2 linked regions of the Homo sapiens genome follow. The gene in region 1 interacts genetically with each later gene. Each region holds a gene or a part of one and is shown on either strand. Other genes may lie near its edges.

What was found.
Region 2: changes in PDSS1 (region 1) and STK11 together harm fitness more than expected from each alone (negative genetic interaction), as found in Homo sapiens cells (one large-scale study listed by BioGRID).

The regions. Positions count from the first base shown.
Region 1 is NC_000010.11:26,695,479-26,701,084, forward strand, and holds the start of PDSS1 (all trans-polyprenyl-diphosphate synthase PDSS1), read left to right. Parts: upstream 1-2,222; 5' UTR 2,223-2,233; coding exon 2,234-2,362; intron 2,363-5,606. UniProt on the Homo sapiens protein: Heterotetrameric enzyme that catalyzes the condensation of farnesyl diphosphate (FPP), which acts as a primer, and isopentenyl diphosphate (IPP) to produce prenyl diphosphates of varying chain lengths and participates in the determination of the side chain of ubiquinone.
Region 2 is NC_000019.10:1,215,778-1,219,277, reverse strand, and holds part of STK11 (serine/threonine-protein kinase STK11), read right to left. Parts: intron 3,011-3,500; exon of another isoform or gene 2,880-3,010; intron 862-2,879; coding exon 778-861; intron 1-777. UniProt on the Homo sapiens protein: Tumor suppressor serine/threonine-protein kinase that controls the activity of AMP-activated protein kinase (AMPK) family members, thereby playing a role in various processes such as cell metabolism, cell polarity, apoptosis and DNA damage response.

The DNA.
Region 1 (5,606 bases):
ATATGGCAAGAAAATGTCTTGGAGGGTACCTAACACTCCAACCTCAAAACGACAACCTTGATCGCTTTCAGTTACACATAGGCCATTTTGATCCATCTGTACTGGCTCTTTTCATTTGTCTAAGGGCAGCAAAATAGACTAAAGTTGTTTTCAGACTGCACAAGAGAAGTCTGTTCTTTAGCACTTACCTGCATAACTCAGATAGTGTTTTTAACTTCCTCAACTCATGCTTGGCCTAGTGGGGTCAAAAGAACTACTTGTGAATTCCGTATGTCCAATTGGTAGCTTACTGTTTTTTCTCAAGAGTTTAGCTATACAGTAACGTTGGAAGTCTTGAGGAACTTCAGCTGCTGTCCCTACTTAGCCTTGCAATACTACGGCATCTTTTTTTCTTTTTCTTTTTTTTAAAGACGGAGTCTCACTTTGTCACCTAGGCCGAAGTGCAGTGGCACAATCTCGGCTCACTGCAACCTCTGCCTCCCAGGTTCAAGTGATTCTCTTGCCTCAGCCTCCTAAGTGGTTGGGATTACAGAACATGCACCACCATGCCCAACTAATTTTTGAATATTTAGTAGAGACGGGTTTCACCATGTTGGCCAGGCTGGTCTCAAACTCCTGACCTCAAGTGATCCACCTGCCTCGGCCTCCCACAGTGCTGGGATTACAGGCTGAGCCACTGTGCCCCCGACCTACAGCATCTTTTTAAGAGCAATGTTTTCTGTTTTAATGTGGCCAAGCAATCTCTAAACGAACATGGTCTGACAAAATTGTGTAGTGACATACTTGACAACTGGGTGAGCTTGAGTGTGATACTTATTTGACCATACGGTATTTCCTCTATATGTTTCCTTATCTTTATATACAAAAAAGGGCAAATGATAATGTCTTAGTCATAGGATCAAGTACAACCCAAGTGCTTACTGCTACACTCTACTTGGCAAATTCCACCTTATGAATGTTTCTTAATATATAAACCTAATCTAAACCAAGATAAGCTACAGGTGCATATTAACAATCTTTACTCATAAAGCTTTGCATATTTTTACATACTATTCTTCAAGATGGAAAAAACACCATCAAACTGGCTTATTTTCATAGATGTCTTTATATAGTCTATGATGTCTTCATTCCATAAAAAATCCACACGATTAAATATGAAATTAATGTACCCAGCTATGAGGCTACCGCATTCTTTAACCCAAGAACAAGAAAATACATGAATCAGAGAACTGCAATTACCTACTTGCTGGTCTATTTCCTCATTAGAGTGAATTTTTTGAGGACTAAATTGCATTTCTCTATCTCTAATGCTTACCCCCTATCTCACTGGCTCTGTGTGTTTGAGTGCATGCGCTGAATGTTTATATCACTTAATTTCTGTTCGGAACACGCTGTCTCTTAGCACCAGTAGATCTGGCCTTAGAGCTAAGGAAAGAAGGCCTTTCTAACCCATAAGGGGTACTAATCCTGTACAGACTCCAATATCTCCCGGGCTGGGTACACGCAGGTTCACACCCAGGTGTGAGCAAGATTGCCAAACTATACCTATAAGGCGTTTGGAGGGGAGAGTCCAAAAGTCACGAGACCCGGCTAATTTAGCTACTATTTCACAACAACCCTGATCGTGGTCGGACTTGTTTCTAGGAAGATGCGATGGGCTGGAACTTCCTTCAAGAACAGATTGCAAAAGGCAGCCGACCAGGGCGTGTCAGGTCACTGCCAAGGGAAGCAGCAGCGGAAACCGTCGCCTCCGGCTTAGGCTGCGGAGCGGGAACCCCATTCTCTGAGTTATGTTTCTGCCTAAACACGCAGAACAAAAGAGTTCGTGGCTGCAAGGGTGGCGCGCGGTAGTATTTCTTGCTAATAAAAGGTCCCCACAGGGACATTTTTGCTATGACTGCAGGCGTGGCCAGTCTCCCTGCACAGCTTCCGGGAAGAGGTGGGGATAGGAGGCTCGCCCCGGGGAAGGTTACGCTCGGGGTCCCCAGACCAGGTCTCCGCACGCCCCTGCCCCGTCGCCTCCCGGGAGCGGCTGCAGTCCCCGTTGGCTGCAGACGGGCAGACACCCGAAGTGTCCGCGCCGGCAGCCGGACCGCAAGCGAGGAAGAGCGAACCGCGCTCCCGGGCCTGGCCGAAGCGCTTCCTGTGCCAGGTTTCCGGCTCCGGGTCCCGGGAGGAGGATCGCGGGCCAGAGGCGGAGCCGCCGCCCTGCCGCGACTTTCAGACTCCGACCATGGCCTCGCGCTGGTGGCGGTGGCGGCGCGGCTGCTCCTGGAAGCCGGCGGCGCGGAGCCCCGGGCCCGGCTCCCCCGGCCGTGCGGGACCGTTGGGGCCGAGCGCCGCTGCCGAAGTCCGCGCGCAGGTGAGGTTGGGAGGCGCGCGCCCGGCGGGGCTCAGAGGTCACGGCTCCAATGACAGCAGTGGGCGGAATGAATGGGAGCGGGGAGCACGTGCGTCGCGACGCGGGGGCGCGCGGGGTAGCTCCGGGGTAGCTCCGGGGTGGGACTCCGGAGCTGAGGGGTGCTCGCGGTGGGACGGAGCCGCGCGTTGGACTGAAGTAGGGGCGCCCTACACGGGGTTGCAGAAAGCGGTGTCCTGGGGACCCCGGGAGCGTTTTGGGGGGTGGAGAAAGCGGTGGGATCCGTGTCCTGGGGGAAGCGCAGGAGCGATCAGATTGACCGCTGCTATATGGACAAGGTTAAGCCTGGAGAGCGACTGCAGCTATTTACTTTGGAGTTAGAGGAAGACAGATCTTGCCTGAAATTTTAGAGCCAAAGTGCTCAGAGCTCTCTCCGAGAAACGGAGGATCGAATCGGCCTCGGAATAGTCCGAAAAGGTCTTGTGGAGAATGCAGGGCTGGTGCTAGGGTGGACCGGACCTTAGTTGTCCAGCAGTGGCCTCGGGAGGAGAGCACACCTGGATGGGGCTGGAATGACACTGGAAGGAGAAAGGCCCGAGGCCGTCAGGAGGAGAGAAACCCTGGAGTCATCTAAAGTCAGAATCTCAGCGATAGCCCATTCTTTCAGGGTCTCCTCTGCTGCCTTTGGGTTCCGATCTCCTTTTTCTCCCTTTCTGGTCAGTTTAGCCCCTGTAAATGGACACTGTGAGCCCTTCTGCGCTTTGTAATGATTCTCAGTGTGCCATGGGGTAGGCCCATGCTATTAGCATAACCGTGCAAAATCTATGGACTCACTGTTACTTAAGTTTATTTGAATTTAGTACTCTTTTAATTCAGATTTGGTATACTTTATGTGTCCGTGTTCTCATCAAACATCATTTCCCAGTATGAAATATATAACACTTATAAATATCTACTTTGTACCAAAGTAGATGCGTATCACAAATTATCCAAAACAAGGCTTGGGCCAGGCACAGTGGCTCACACCTGTAATCCCAGCACTTTGGGAGGCTGAGGTGGGAGAATCGGTTGAGGCCAGGAGTTTGGGACCAGCCTAGGCAACATAGCAAGACTCTGTCTCTATAAAAAATAGAAAAAATTCACCAGGTGGGGTGGTGCATGCCTGTAGTTCTACCTACTCAGGAGCCTGAGGGAGGAGGATTGTTCGATCCCAGGAGTTCAAGATTACAGTGAGCTGTTTATTGTGATAGTGCCAGTGCACTCCAGCCTGGGCAACAGTGTGAGACCCTATCTCTAAAAAATCTAAAGCAAAAAAGACGTTTGGAGACCAAGTGGCAGCTGGGCAACTAGACAATGCTAGAGAGTAAAGAGAACAGAATATGGGGGGTGAGGGGCATGTGGGAGAAGAGGCTTAGAGGAGGAAGGTAGGCTTTGCTGTGATCCATTTCAGGACTGTTCTCTCCAGACTTCAGATATTTCTAGTTCCACAGAAGAAGCCAGTATTTGAAGAGATGGGTGCATCCACCCTCTTATGCCACTACATGCTTCTTCTTCTTCTTCTTTTTTTTTTTTTTTGACACAGAGTCTCACTCTGTCGCCCAGGCTGGAGTGCAGTGGCGGAATCTCGGCTCACTGCAAACTCCACCTCCCAGGTTCAAGCGATTCTCCTGCTGCAGACTCCCAAGTAGCTGGGATTACAGGCGTACACCACGACCCCCAGCTAATTTTTGTATTTTTAGTAGAGACGGCATTTCACCATGTTGCCCAGGCTGGTCTGGAACTCCTGACCTCAAGTGATCCACCCCCTCCTCGGCCTCCCAAAGTGCGGGGATTACAGGTGTGAGCCACCACGCCTGGCCTGACACTTCTTTTTAAAAAAGTTTCTTGCCCACCAAGCAACCTTAGCCAGGGAAAGTGTGCTTTTCTGGAGAGAATATGCTTTATGGCCTCCCCGTCTGCATGACGACAAGGAGGAATTCTGTGGACTCATGATGCCAAGATCATGTATTTCTGATGTGTGTGTCAGTGATGCCTTTCACTATATGTTAATATGTTAGCATTCTGGTGTCTGCCTCAGGCATGTGTATTTTGGTTACTTCAAGTCTCTTAGGGCCTGATAGTCCTTGGGGACACAGAACTACAATAACTAAGCCACAGGGACAAAGAGCGGCAATAATTAAGCCACGTCTTGCTCTCCACCAGAGCTCTACTACCTCCTAATGGTTGTACATTCTTCTGACTTCACTAGTAGTGTGAACAAATATTGTAATACAATAAAAACCAGTGTGCATGTGATCGTGCCAAATCACTTCTCAATATATCTTTGATTTTTTTTTTTAATTTATTTTTTTAGAGACGGGGACTTTTTGTGTTGGCCAGGTTGGTCTTGAACTCTTGGACTCAAGCCATTCCCCCCTCCCCCCCACCCCGCTTGAGGATTGGCACACGGCCATGTATTTGATTCTTACCCAGCACTTTCTCTTTAGCTGAGCGTGGTGGCTCACGCCTGTAATCCCAACAGTTTGGGAGGCCGAGGCAGGAGAATCCCTTTAGCTCAGGAGTTCGAGACCAGCCTGGGCCACTTAGTGAGACCTCCTGATATGGTTTGGCTCTGTGTGCCCACCCACATCTATCTCGAATTGTAATCCCCAATTATATTTGGGGACCAGGGAGGGTCAAGGGAGGGACCAGGTGGAGGTAATTGGATCATGGGGGTGGATTCCCCCATGCTGTTCTCATGATAGGGAGTTCTCACAAGATCTGCTGGTTTTATAAGTGTTTGGTAGTTCCTCCTGTGTTCATTCTGTCTCCTGCCGCCTTGTGAAGAAGGTGCTTGTTTCTCCTTCTCCTTCTTCCACCATGATTCTAAGTTTCTGAGGCCTCCCCAGCCATTCAGAACTGTGAGTCAATTAAACCTCTTTCCTATAATTATAGATTGCCCAGTCATGGGTAATTTCTTTATAGCAGTGTGAGAATGGACCAATACAGATAATTGGTACCAAAGTAGTTGGCATTGATATAAGATACCTGAGAATGTGGAAATTACTTTGGAACTGGGTAACAAGCAGAGGTTGGAATAGTTTGGAGGGCTCAGAAGAAGAAAGGAAGATGTAGGAAAGTTTGGAAATTCCTAGAGTCTTGTTGAATGGCTTTGACCAAAATGCTGAAAGTGATATGGACGATGAAGTCCAGGCTGAGGTGGTCTCAGATGGAGATGAGGAGCTTCCTGGGAACTGGGCAAAGGTCA
Region 2 (3,500 bases), on another chromosome or scaffold:
GCCCAGGGAGCACGGGGGCCAGAAAAGGGGCTCTGGAGGGACCCTCTGCACCCACCTTGCCCCTCCTCGGGACCAGGGCCCACCCTGCCCTCAGCCACCCCTCTGAAAAGGCCCAGGGGCCCCAGCGTCCCAGGAGGAAGGAGCCTACGGGGAAGGGGAGGACAGGGCTGACTCTTGGGGCAGCGTTCCTGCGGGGCTCACGTCCCCCACCCTGCCCATGGGCGGGGGATGGTGCCTCCTGGACGCCCCCCCAAGCAGGCTCGGGCCCATGCAGGACGGTCCCAGGGCCCCTGACCGCGTGGCTCAGGGAACACAGCCCCAGCCTCAGGACCACTTCTGGCTCTTGCTCTGGGCACAGGGCCTTAGGAAGCAAAGTCCCCGTAGGGAGGCTGTGCCCGTAAGACCCATGGGGGTGTCCACAGATGACACGAGGACACGCCCAGCCACGACCAAAATGGCCCACAACGGTCAGCCCGCGTGGCCTGTCTCAGGCAGACCGTGGCTACACCCCTGGTTAGCCTGGGAGGAGACTCTGAGAAAAAAGGGACTTGACACCCCACGGGCCCAAGACACAGGGGCCAGGGCTCAGGGCCCCTTTCAGCAAGCTGCGCAGCCATTGCCACAATGGCTGACTTCCGGGGAACCAGGGAAGGCCACGGCCCTCGTGTGCCAGTCTCCTTCAAGGAGACGGGAAGAGGAGCAGGCCTCGAGGCAGGCGGACCCAGGGCCCCAGCCCCTCCCACGGAGGCCCCGCGGTCCCAACACCGGAAAGGATATATTTTCTGCTTCTCTTCGTTGTATAACACATCCACCAGCTGGATGACATTTTTGTGCCGTAACCTCCTCAGTAGTTGAATTTCCCTGGGACAGAGAGGACAGGGGTGTATCAGCCGACCCAACGTCAGGATGATGGCCTGGATCCCTGGAGTCGGCCTCCCCATCTCCCTGTGGAAGTGGCGTACCTCCTCCCTTCCCTAGAGAGAAGCTGTGAGTTCACAGTGCTGTGGGAAAGGGCCCTGCAGGGGCCACGCGTCCAGGCTCAGGGCGGTAGGGGGTGGGAGCACAGCGCCCTCTAGTCTGTCATCGGCCGGCGAGGGCTTTGGAGGACACAGTTAGGACACTTTTTTTTTTTTCTGAGACAGAGTCTTGCTCTGTCCCTAGGCTGGAGCACGGTGGCCCGATCTCAGCTCACTGCAACCTCTGCCTCCCAGGTTCAAGTGATTTCCCTGCCTCAGCCTCCCGAGTAGCTGGGACTACAGGCACGTGTCACCACAGCCGGCTAATTTTTTTGTATTTTAGTACAGACAGGGTTTCACCATGTTGGCCAGGATGGTCTCGATCTCCTGACCTTGTGATCCGCCCGCCTCGGCCTCCCAAAGGACACTCTTAATTGAGCTTTGTAACTCAGTAACAGTTTTGCTTCCTAGAAACCAGACTACTGCAATGGTAGCACAGATGGAGCCCAGACTGTGGCAGGAGCCAGGGTGAGTTGGAGCCCTGGTGATGGCTCCGTCACACAGTACAGTCCCACGCAGCCAAGGGCTCCCAACTCCGAGGGTCCCACTCCTTGGAGGGTGGGCCGCAGGTGAGCTGGAAGGATGGCCCATAGGAAGGGGCAGGCGAAGAAGGAGACGCCACAGAAAGAGACATTGTGGGGTCCTGCCACACCCACCCGCCTGTCACTGCCCCCTCTGCAGCTGCCGCCCAGTTGGCCACGCCCACCTGCCTGTCACAAGGGTGGGGCACAACAGGCCAGAGAGCACAGCCCCCTCTGCAGCTGCCGCCCTGTCGCAGACACTTCATTTCTCCCAGCACTATAGGAGGCCGAGGCGGGTGGATCACCTGAGCTCAGGAGTTCGAGACCAGCCTGAGCAACACGGCGAAACCCTGTCTCTACTAAAAATACAAAAATTAGCCAGGTGTGGAGGTACGTGCCTCAAGTCCTAGCTACTCGGGAGGCTCAGGTGGGAGGATCACTTGAGCCTGTAGTTACCTGTGATCGTGCTACTGCACTCCAGCCTGGACAACAGAATAAGACCCTGTCTCATAAAAGAAAAAATTAAACAAAAACAAAAATGACGAGGAGCAAGGTCCTCACACCCAGTGGGTGGGCGTGGAAGCGTCTGCAGCTTCTCCAAAGGTCTGTTACCCTGTGAGCCAGCAGCTCCACTCCCAGGTACACACCCTGAGGAACAGTACACGCCACGCAGAAACGGAGCACGAGATGCTCACAGCAGCAGGACGCACAGCAGCCGAGATGTGGAACCACCCAGGGGCCCTTCCACAGACGAGGATCAGCACAGCCCATCCACGCACTCAACAAGACTCAGCCACAAAAACCAGTGAGGCTCTGACTCGAGCCACAGCCTAGCTGCACCTTGAGGATGTCACAGTGAGACACTAAAGGACACACAGTGTGTGATGCACTTTTTTTTTTTTTTTTGAGACAGGGTTTCCCTGTCGCCCAGGCTGGAGTGCACCTCCCAGGCTCAAGCGATCCTCCCATCTCAGCCCCGCAAGTAGCTGGGACTACAGACGTGTGCTACCATGCCCAGCTAATTTTTGTATTTTAGTAGAGACAGTTTCACCGTGCTGCCCAGGCTGGTCTCGTTTGAACTACTAGGCTCAAGTCATCTGCCCACCTCGGCCTCGGAAAACGCTGGGATGACAGGATCCCATTTCTTGTTTTTTTTTTTTTGGAGACGGAGTCTCACTCTGTCGCCAGGCCAGAGTGCAATGGCATGATCTCAGCTCACTGCAACCTCTGCCTCCCGGGTTCAAGCGATTTCTCCTGACTCAGCCCCTGAGTCGCTGGGACTACAGGTGCCCGCAACCACGCCCAGCTAATTTTTGTATTTTTAGTAGAGATGGGGTTTCACCATGTTGGCCAGGATGGTCTGGATCTCTTGCTCTCGTGAGTCACCGCGCCCGGCCGACAGGATCCCATTTCTATGCAATATCCAGGACAAGCCAATCCAGAGCCAGGAAGTGGATTCAGAGTGGCCAGGAGCTGGTGGAGGGGATGGAGAGTGACACAATGGGAATGGGGCTTGCTTTTGGGGTGACCGAACGTTCTGGAATTAGAAGTAGTGGTTGCACAGCCGTGTGAATGTACTTAATGCCACTGAATTGTACACTGTGAACGAATGAGTTGTACAGTATGTAAATTCCATCTCCATAGTTTTTTTTTTCTTTTTTAATTCTTAACAGGAAGCCCAAGCATGGAGCATAAAAAACAGCTGGGGGGCCAGGCGCGGTGACTCACGCCTGTAATCCCGACACTATGGGAGGCCGAGGTGGATCACCTGAGGTCAGGAGTTCGAAACCAGCCTGGCCAACATGGTGAAACCTTGTCTCTACTAAAAATACAAAAATTAGCCGGGCGTGGTGATGGGCGCCTGTAATCCCAGCTACTCAGGAGGCTGAGGCAGGAGAATCGCTTGAACCTGGGAGGCGGAGGTTGCAGAGAGTCGAGATCTCACCACTGCACTCCAGCCTGG